Linked DNA regions of Homo sapiens: region 1 is linked to region 2. Evidence: fine-mapped expression QTL. A gene starts in region 2. The other region holds a variant in brackets. All regions are shown on one strand. Distances are from middle to middle.

Evidence for each region. PIP is the estimated chance that this variant, and not a neighbour inherited with it, causes the effect.
Region 1: its variant is the best candidate, but not a certain one, in a credible set for the expression of TMC4 in whole blood (INTERVAL, PIP 0.69).

What each region holds. Positions count from the first base shown.
Region 1 is chr19:54,087,713-54,093,226 of GRCh38, reverse strand. No RefSeq gene overlaps it. Among named protein-coding and RNA genes, the nearest start is that of TARM1, 9.1 kb to the right of the region's middle. The variant T/AAAT (reference allele first, on the strand shown) is at 3,010.
Region 2 is chr19:54,170,126-54,175,125 of GRCh38, reverse strand. TMC4 (transmembrane channel like 4) reads left to right here and starts at 1,966. Exons shown (of 15, transcript NM_144686.4): 1 at 1,966-2,087; 2 at 3,043-3,256. The coding sequence starts at 2,009. It overlaps MBOAT7 (membrane bound acylglycerophosphatidylinositol O-acyltransferase MBOAT7), which reads left to right. Exons shown (of 8, transcript NM_024298.5): 8 at 695-1,711. The coding sequence ends at 1,082. RefSeq lists enhancers at 211-1,026, 1,027-1,843.

The sequences.
Region 1 (5,514 bases), 82 kb after region 2:
TTTTTTATTTTATTTTATTTTATTTTATTTTTTTTGAGGTGGACTTTCGCTCTTGTTGCCCAGGCTGGAGTGCAATGGCGCCATCTCGGCTCACCACAACCTCCGCCTCCCAGGTTCAAGTGATTCTCCTGCCTCAGCCTCCCGAGTAGCTGGGATTACAGGTGTGAGCCACCACACCTGGCTAATTTTGTATTTTGAGTAGAAACAGGGTTTCTCTGTGTAGGTCAGGCTGGCCTCGAACTCCCAAACTCAGGTGATCCGCCCGCCTCAGCCTCCCAAAGTGCTGGGATTACAGGCATGAGCCACCGTGCCCGGCCCTCTTTTTTTTAAAATGTATTTCCACCCAAAGCAGAGAAAAAGAAGTCTTGGCCGAGTTTGTACTTCAACTTAACTCCATGTATTCATCCATTCAATCACTCCTTCATTCACCATTCACTCATTCATGTCTAGCATTGATTCTCATCCTTATTCATTTCTATTGAGCATCTCTTTTTCCTTTGCTTTCATTTGTACATTTGTCTATTTCATTTGTCCTTATCCATCATGCATTCATTCATATTTCCATCCATTTACCCATCCATTTCTTCATTAACCAGTTTTTAATCCACTGAACTATTTATTCATTCAATATCCATCTATCTACCTGTGCATTTATCTATCCAATAAGCTTGAGATTTTTTTTCTTTTTGAGATGGAGTCTTGCTCTGTTTCCCAGGTTGGAGTGCAGTGTTGTGATCTCAGCTCACTACAATCTCCACCTCCCGGGTTCAAACGATTCTCCTGCCTCAGCCTCCCAAGTAGCTGGGATTACAGGCACCTGCCACCATGCCCGGCTAATTTTGTGTTTTTAGTAGAGATGGGGTTTCACCATGTTGGCCAGGCTGTTCTCGAACGCTTGACCTAAAGTGATCCATCTGCCCACCTTGGTCTCCCTTTAAAGTGCTGGGATTACAAGCGTGAGCCACTGCACCCAGCTGAGATTTCTTCATAGCAGTTTACCAGTGACCAGTGTTCAATGAATGCTTATTGAGTGAGTTGTAGTCACAATGCTTATTTCATTTTCTACCACTGAACATCTTTTCATACTGGTCATTTTGCTGGGTGATCCACATAGGTTATTTCTGATCTTTATCAACAGCCCCCAAGTCACACAGAAGTGCTTAACTTGGGACTTGTCTGTGTGGTTAGACTGCTGGGTCTTTTCCCCCTGTTCCTGCCTCTTAAAGCAATGACAACACTGCCATCACCACGCCTGGCCAATTTATTATTACTATTATTATTATTATTTTTTTTTGAGATGGAGTCTCGCTCTGTTGCCAGGCTGTAGTGCAATGACGCGATCTCGGCTCACTGCAACCTCCGCCTCCTGGGTTCAAGCGATTCTCCTGCCTCGGCCTCCCGAGTAGCTGGGATTACAGGCGTGTGCCACCACCACGCCCAGCTAACTTTTGTATTTTTAGTAGAGATGGGGTTTCACCATGTTGGCCAGGATGGTCTCGATCTATTGACCTCGTGATCCACCCGCCTCGGCCTCCCAAAGTGCTGGAATTACAGGCGTGAGCCACCGCGCCCGGCTAATTGTTTACTTTTTATAGCTATGGGGTCTCACCATGTTGTCCAGGCTGGTCTTGAATGCCTGGCCTCAAGCCATCCTCCTTCCTTGGCCTCCCAAAGTGCTGGGATTCCAGGAGTGAGTCACTGCGCCAGGCCTAGGGCTTCCACTGATTTCCCCTAGTCTCATTCATCCTCGTATCACTCATGTATTCAATGTCTACCGTGCATGGCATTGTGCTAGAGTCCGGCGGTCCAGTGGGGAGCAATAGCAGACGTAAACCCTGCACTCATGGAACTCACAAAGTATTAACCAAATCACTGCATAGTGTATTGGTTACAGAGCACTTTAAGCTGTTGTAAAAAAGAATCTCCCGGCCAGGTGCAGTGGCGCACACCTGTAATCCTAGCACTTTGGGAGGCCAAGGCAGGTGGATCACCTGAGGTCAGGAGTTCGAGAGCAGCCTGATTAACATGGTGAAACCCTGTCTCTACTAAATACAAAAAATTAGCCTGGTGTGGTGGTGCATGCCTGTAATCCCAGCTACTCGGGAGGCTGAGGCAGGAGAATCACTTGAACCCGGGAGGCGGAGGTTTCACTGAGCCGAGGTCGTGCCATTGCACTCCAGCCTGGGCAACAAGAGCCAAGCTCCATCTCATAAAAAAGAGAGAGAGAGAGAAAAAAAGAATCTCCTTCACCACCGGAAAAAAACTAGATATAAATGTACCTCTCTCTCACTTAACAGTAAATCACTGGGCAATCTCAACGATTTACTTGTTAAGGTGGGATGGTTTTGCTTTTATCAACATGTAGCTTTAATTTCTGGTTCTGAGCCCCAAGAAAGTGGAGAGGACAGAGAGAAAAGGGCTCACACAATTATTATTATTTTTTTTTTCCGAGTTGGAGTCTTGCTCTGTCGCCCAGGCTGGAGTGCAGTGGCGCGATCTCGGCTCACTGCAAGCTCCGCCTCCCGGGTTCACGCCATTCTCCTGCCTCAGCCTCCCGAGTAGCTGGGACTACAGGCGTCCACCACCACACCCGGCTAATTTTTTTTGTATTTTTAGTAGAGACGGGGTTTCACCGTGTTATCCAGGATGGTCTCGATTTCCTGACCTCGTGATCCGCCTGCCTCAGCCTCCCAAAGTACTGGAATTACAGGCGTGAGCCACTGCGCCCGGCCCACACAATTATTTTTTAAGAGCAGGACCTAGAATTTGAGCATATATCTTCCTATCGCATCCCATTGGCTAGAACTTAGTCTCATGGCCAGGTCTAGCCGCAAAAGTGACTGATGGAAATATGGTCTCTAGCCTGTGCCCTTCTAAAAATGAGGGTGGGAGGGGGTGGGATAGGTGCAGTGGCTCACTCGTAATCCCAGCATTTTGGGAAGCTGAGGCAGGAGGATGGCTTGAGGCCAAGAGTTTGAGACTCCCTTCTCTATTCAAAAAAAAAAAAAA[T/AAAT]ACAGTAGGCCAGGTGCGGTGGTTCACGCCTGTAATCCCAGCACTTTGGGAGGCCAAGGCAGGCAGATCACCTGAGGTCAGGAGTTGGAGACCACCCTGGCCAATATAGTGAAACCCCGACTCTACTAAAAATACAAAGCTGTAATCCCAGCTACTCGGGAGGCTGAGGCAGGAGAATCACTTGAACCCTGGAGGCAGAGGTTGCAGTGAGCTGATACACGCCATTGCACTCCAGCCTGGGCCACAGAGCGAGACTCCGTCCCAAAAAAAAGAAAAACAACGAATAAAACAAAAAAACAAAAAACAAACAAAAAAAAGTTTAATGATTTTTCTTCTCTCTAGGAGAAAATATGGAAGTAAAACAGGACCCATCTGAAGATCGTGTGTCCTCTGCTGATTTTAAATAGCCATGGAAAGTTAATGCCACCGCAAGGGGCAGCCCCGCCCTGGCACTCTGGAAACCTGGTACTTATCCACGCAATCAGAGGCTTGAACCACAGCTAAGCTGAGTCTCGGCGGGACCTCTTCTGATCCTCCGGGCACACAAGAGGATTGGGGGCTGGGGAGGAGCTGCTTCAAGGACACCTCCGTTTTACCTCCCGTGATACCGTGATATAGTAAGAAATATGTACTTGGTCTTCAGCTTTGGTTCCAAAGACACCCTTCTCACCCCATCACTCTGGAATTTCCAAAAACCCTTGGTGAGAAGGGTGTCTTTTGTTGTTTATAAGGAGCCTCTTTTCTCTTTCTCTCTTTCTTGCTTCCTTCCTTCCTTGCCTCCCTCCCTCCCTCCTTCCTTTTCTCTTTTCTTTTTTCTTCTTTCTTTCTTTTTCTTTCTTTCTTTTTCTTTTCTTTCTTTCTTTCTTTCTCTCTTTTCTTCTTTCTTTCTCTCTTCCCTTTCTCTCCCTTTCCTTTCCTTTCTCTCCCTTCCCCTCCCCTCCCCTCTCCTCTCCTCTCTTTTCCTTTCTTTTCCTTCCTTTCCTTCTTTCCTCTAATCCCAGCACTTTGGGAGGCCAAGGCGGGCGGATCACTTGAGGTCAGGAGTTTCAGACCAGCCTGGCCAACATGGTGAAACCCCGTCTCTACTAAAAATACAAAAATTAGTCGGGCATGGTGGCAGGCACCTGTAATTCCAGCTACTCTGGAGGCTGAGGCAGGAGAATCCCTTGAACTAGGATGCAGAGGTTGCGGTGAACCGAGATCTCACCACTGCACTCCAGCCCGGGCTACAGAGCGAGACTCCGTCTCAAGGAAATATAAAAGAAAATAAAATAAATGTCTCCCAAAGAGACAAGTCAGATTAGCCTAAACCCAGGAATAACTACAGGCAGTTTGAGGGCCAAAGGCAAGGTAGGGGCTGGCCAGATCCGATCTCCTTCACTGCCATCCTTTGCTCACTCTCGTAATTTTTGCAAAGGAGGTTTCAATTGCATGGTTGTCAGCGAACATCCTATTCATCCATTTCTTGCTTTCTACCAGTAAAATTGAACTTTATAGGCCTGCTTTGTGCTTTTAAGGCTAACTAGCAAAATTCCAGAGTTTAGCCTTAAAAAATATTTATAATTGGCCGGGCACAGTGGCTTACACCTGTAATCCCAGCACTTTGGGAGGCTGAGGCGGGCGGATCACAAGGTCAGGAGATCGAGACCATCTTGGCTAACATGGTGAAACTCCATCTCTACTAAACACACACACACACAAAAAAAAAAGTAGCCGGGTGTAGTGGCACACGCCTGTAGTCCCAGCACTTTGGAAGGCTGAGGTGGGCGGATCATGAGGTCAGGAGATCAAGACCATCCTGGCTAACATGGTGAAACCCCGTCTCTACTAAAAATACAAAAAAAAAAAAAAAAAAAGTAGCTGGGCATAGTGGCACATGCCTGTAGTCCCAGCTACTTGGGAGGCTGAGGCAGGAGAATCACTTGAACCCGGGAGGCAGAGGTTGCAGTGAGCTGAGATTGTGCCATTGTACTCCATCCTGGGTGACAGAGTGAGACTCCATCTAAAAAAAAAATTCTTTATAATTGATCAAAAGAAGTTTAAGAAATGGATTAAGAAGATCTCTTCTTTGCAGCTGTAGGGGAGGAGAGGGAGCTAGAGAGAGAGAGGGCATTGAGAGAGGAGAAAAAGATATTCTGTGCCATAAAACTAATTCAAGAATGTAGTTTAGGCGAGGCATGGTGGTTCACACCTGTAATCCCAGAACTTTGGGAGGTCGAGGCAGGCGGATCACTTGGGCCCAGAAGTTCGAGACCAGCCCTGGCCAACATGGCAAAACACTGTCTCTACTAAAAGTACAAAAATTAGCCCAGCGTGGTGGCACAACCCTGTAATTCCTTGTACTTGGGAGGGCTGGGGCAAGAGAATCACTTGAACCCGAGAGGCAGAGGTTGCAGTGAGTCGAGATCACACCACTGCACTCCAACCTGGGTGACACAGTGAGACCCTGTCTTAAAAAAAAAAAAACAAAAAAAAAAACAGAGTGGGGTGGGGGGCTGGGGGAGG
Region 2 (5,000 bases):
CAGGCGCCTGTAGTCCCAGCTACTCGGGAGGCTGAGGCAGGAGAATGGCGTGAACCTGGGAGGCGGAGCTTGCAGTGAGCCAAGATCGCGCCACTGCACTCTAGCCTGGGCGACAGAGCGAGACTCTGTCTCAAAAAAAAAAAAAAAAAACCACTGGGCTGAAGAATTAAGACTTGTTGGTCCTGGGAGAGGAAGGGCAGTGGAATATAAAATGTTAAATCTTTAAAGAAGAAGAGGGTCTTGATAGGACTGAGTGTGTATGGAAGGCTGCGAGCTCCTGGATCCCTGAAGGAGACAGAGGCCTGTAGCCTCCTCCGCCTTCCGGAGCTAGGGTCATGGGTCTGAGTGGGGAGGGCCTGGGGCCTGGTCTCCTGGATCTGAGGGAGGAGGGAGGTGGGGTCTGGTCTCCTGGATCTGAGGGAGGAGGGAAGTGGGGTCTGGACTCCTGGATCTGAGGGAGGAGGGAGGTGGGGTCTGGTCTCCTGGGTCTGAGGGAGGAGGGACTGGGGCCTGATCTCCTGGGTCTGAGGGAGGAAGGGGTGGGGTCTGGACTCCTGGGTCTGAGGGAGGAGGGGCTGGGCCTGCACTTCTCGGTCTGAGGGAGGAGGGGCTGGGGTCCTGGACTCCTGGATCTGGGGGCAGTGGGCACTGGGGACCTGGACTCGTAGGTCCTGACTCCCAGCCTCCTCCTCAGGAGCGCCTGGACCATGCTGCTGAGCGCCTACTGGCACGGCCTCCACCCGGGCTACTACCTGAGCTTCCTGACCATCCCGCTGTGCCTGGCTGCCGAGGGCCGGCTGGAGTCAGCCCTGCGGGGGCGGCTGAGCCCAGGGGGCCAGAAGGCCTGGGACTGGGTGCACTGGTTCCTGAAGATGCGCGCCTATGACTACATGTGCATGGGCTTCGTGCTGCTCTCCTTGGCCGACACCCTTCGGTACTGGGCCTCCATCTACTTCTGTATCCACTTCCTGGCCCTGGCAGCCCTGGGGCTGGGGCTGGCTTTAGGTGGGGGCAGCCCCAGCCGGCGGAAGGCAGCATCCCAGCCCACCAGCCTTGCCCCGGAGAAGCTCCGGGAGGAGTAAGCTGTCACGACGCTCCCTCTGCCAGCTGGTCCCGGGAATTCTGTGAACCAGGCTGCTGTCTCCTCCCCAGAAAGAGTCCTTACCTTGGAGAGGGTCCTGGAGAGAATTTCCTCTTCCCCAGCTAAATACCCTGCCTGCAACTGAAGCAGACCCGGGGGTGTCCTCCCTGCCCTCTGCCCAGAGGCCACCTCCACTCCTACAAAATCAAAGTATTGTCCAGACAAGAGTCACTGGCCCCTGCTCCAGCTTCTGGGTATCCAGAGAGCACTGCACTTCCCCAAAACGGAAGGGGCCCCTGGGCAGTGGGTTTTGGGCAAATTCCCTTTCTTTGCATCCACAATGTGGGGTCGGAGCTTGGGGGCAGGTCCTGGGAGTGGGAAGCCTCTTCCTTGTGTCTTTCGCTCCACTTTTAGCTCATCGCACCAATATTGCAGACTTGGAAGGAAGCATAAGCTTCCCATTTCACAAAGGGGAAACTGAGGTGCGGGTGCGCGGGCCTGGGGACGGCCGTCCCATGGCTTCCATCTGAGCCACCTCGGGACCCCAGCACTCCTGGCGCCCTCTTCTCATCGCTTGGCCTATGACAGGTCACCGTGTGTAAATCTTTCCCAATAAAGTGTTGCACAAAGGCATCGTGTCCGTGCAGGTATCTGGGTGATAAACGGTGGGAAGGACTTAGTCCACCAAGTCCCAGGGTGAGGTACAGCCCCCCCGCCCAGCCCAGGAACCAAACTGTGAGGCCCGGGGCACCACGGGGACTTCAGCTCCCAGGAGACCTTTCGCATCAGCGGCCCTGAGAAACCACAGGAAGTGTACCTTACTCCCTCCGGGCCACCTGCTGGCCAGGTACACACCTGCCCCTGGCCCCTCCCTTACCTGGGGCAGTGTCTGCCTGGTGGCCACTAGAGACAGCCCAGCCTGGGGCCATGGAAGAAAACCCGACCTTGGAATCAGAAGCCTGGGGCTCCTCTAGGGAGTGGCTGGCCCCCCGGGAGGCCAGAGGAGGTAGGGAATGCCAGGAGAAGCTCAGATCCATCCGACCTTCAGGCTAGGTGGGAGTCCTGCTGGAGGAGGAAAGGGGAGGCCTGGCCTCCTGAGTCTGAGGGCTAAAGAGAGAAGGTTCCACTTCCTGATATTATGGGGGAGAAGGGAACTGGAGGCTGGAACTCCAGGGTCTGAGGAGGAGGAGCCTGGAGAACCAGGCTAGTCTGGGAGGAGGGGAGGGCTAAGGGCTGGGAGTTTGGGTGTCTTGGGAATAGGAGAGGCTGGGTTCCCACACTCCTGAGCTAGAGGGAAAAGGAAGTTAAAGCCTGGACTCCACTGCCCTGGAGTAGGAGGGTTCCACGCTTGGGGATGGAGTTGAGGGCTGTGGACCCCTGGGTCCAGGGGAAGTAGAGGCTGGCACCCGGACTCCTGGGCCTGAGGGAGGAGGGGCTGGGAACCTGGTTTCCTGGTCTGAGGGAGGAGGGGCTGGGTGCCTGGATTCCTATGTCTGAGGGAGGAGGAGCCGGGGGCCTGGACTCCTGGGTCTGAGGGAGGAGGGGCCGGGGGCCTGTTCTCCTGGGTCTGAGGGAGGAGGAGCCGGGGGCCTGGACTCCTGGGTCTGAGGGAGGAGGCGCCGGGGGCCTGTTCTCCTGGGTCTGAGGGAGGAGGAGCCGGGGGCCTGGACTCCTGGGTCTGAGGGAGGAGGAGCCGGGGGCCTGGACTCCTGGGTCTGAGGGAGGAGGAGCCGGGGGCCTGGACTCCTGGGTCTGAGGGAGGAGGAGCCGGGGGCCTGGACTCCTGGGTCTGAGGGAGGAGGAGCCGGGGGCCTGGACTCCTGGGTCTGAGGGAGGAGGAGCCGGGGGCCTGGACTCCTGGGTCTGAGGGAGGAGGGGCCGGGGACCTGGTTTCCTGGTCTGAGGGAGGAGGAATTAGGGCCCAGACTCCCGGGTCTTCCCAGCCCCCTGCTCCTCCCCAGGCCCATCGCTGTCTTCTGTGCTGAACGAGCTGCCCAGTGCTGCCACCCTTCGGTACCGAGACCCTGGGGTGCTGCCTTGGGGGGCGCTGGAGGAGGAGGAGGAGGATGGAGGAAGGAGCAGAAAGGCCTTCACAGAAGTCACCCAGACAGAGCTGCAGGACCCTCACCCTTCCCGGGAACTGCCCTGGCCCATGCAGGCCAGACGGGCACACAGGTGAGGCCCCACCTCCAGCTGGGACCCGCACAGCCCGGACCGGGCCCTTCTCCCATACCCTGGACTCGGTCTCCTCCCTCTGTCCTCTGCCGCTCCTGGCTTCTGGGGCCTCTCTCTGCCCCGCTCAGAGCTGCCTCTCTTGGTTTCTTTCTTCCCCTCATCTTTGTCTCTACTTCGGACTCCAGGTGAGTGCTGCCTTTCGATGGCTCTGGGGTCTCTTCTCTCTGGGATTTGCCGTCTCCCTGGTCTCCACCAATCCTGTCTCTGCCTCAGTTTCTCTCTGTGTGTGTGTCCAAAATCTGTTAATATTTATTTCTCTCTGCTTTATACCTTCCTTCATCTTTGCCTCCTCTTCCAAGCCTCCCTCTCTTTAACTTCTTTCTTTTCCCATTCTCACTGCATAATTTGCAGGGCCTGGTGAACAATGAAAATGCAGGTGCCCTCCTTCAAAAATGATTATGGGCCCATTGCAGTGGCTCACACCTGTAATCCCAGCACTTTGGGAGGCCCAGGCGAGTGGATCACCTGTGGTCAGGAGTTCGAGACCAGCCTGGCCAACATGGCAAAACCCCAACTCTACTAAAAATACAAACATTAGCTGGGTGTGGTGGCGGGTGCCTGTAATCCCAGCTACTCGGGAGGCTGAAGCAGGAGAATCGCTTGAACCAGGGAGATAGAGGTTGCAGTGAGCCAAGATCGTGCCATTGGACTCCGGCCTGGGTGATAGAGCGGGACTCCATCTCAAATATATATGCGTATATATATGCATATGTGTGTATATATATACACATATATATGTATATATATGTGTATATATATGGAAAAAACAATAAAAAATAACAATGTATCAACACTCCCACACCGATCAGTAGTGGGATCATGCCTGTGAATATAGCCACTATACTGCGGCCTGAGTAACATAGCGAGACCCCCATCTCTATTTTTTAAAAGTAATAATCAAAGTAACAATATGACAAAAAATAATACAAGTTAAAAGAACAGCTATCTATATAACATTTACCTTGTACCGGGTGTTATAAGTAATCTAGAGGTGATTTAAAGTGCATTGGAGGGCTGGGTGTCGTGGCCCATACCTGTAGCCCCAGCGCTTTGGGAGGCTGAGGCGGGAGAATTGCTTGAGCCTGGAAGTTTGAGGCTGCATTGAGCTATGATTGCACCACCGCACTCCAGCCTGGACAACAAAACGAGACATTTGTCTGTAAAAATCAGATAAAAATTAAAATAAAATAAAATAAAACAAACACAGGAGGATGTGTGTAGCCTGTATGCAAATACTATACCGTTTTATATAAGGAATTTGGGCATCTACAGATTTCAGTATTCTTGGGGAGTCCTTGAACCAACCCCCATGGATACTGAGGGATGGCTGTATTCATAAAGTGAGAGCCCAGATAAACTCCAGCTAGGGCAAGTGACACGGCATGACAGCACCCTGTGCGTCCCTCCCCTGACACCCCCTTTTTCCTCACAAATACAAGGTAACCTCTTCTCCCTAACCTTTTTTTTTTTTTTTTTGACAGAGTCTTGCTCTGATGCCCAGGCTGGAGTGCAGTGGTGCAGTCTCAGCTCACTGCAGCCTCCGACACCTGGGCTCAAGCGATCCTCCCACTCCAGCCTCCTGCTTTTCTGTAGAGCTTTGCAAGCTGTGCTCTGCAACGTTGTGCAAATAGAATCATACAGTCTTCAGTCTTTTGTGCTGGCTTCTTCTGCCTAGCATTAGGTT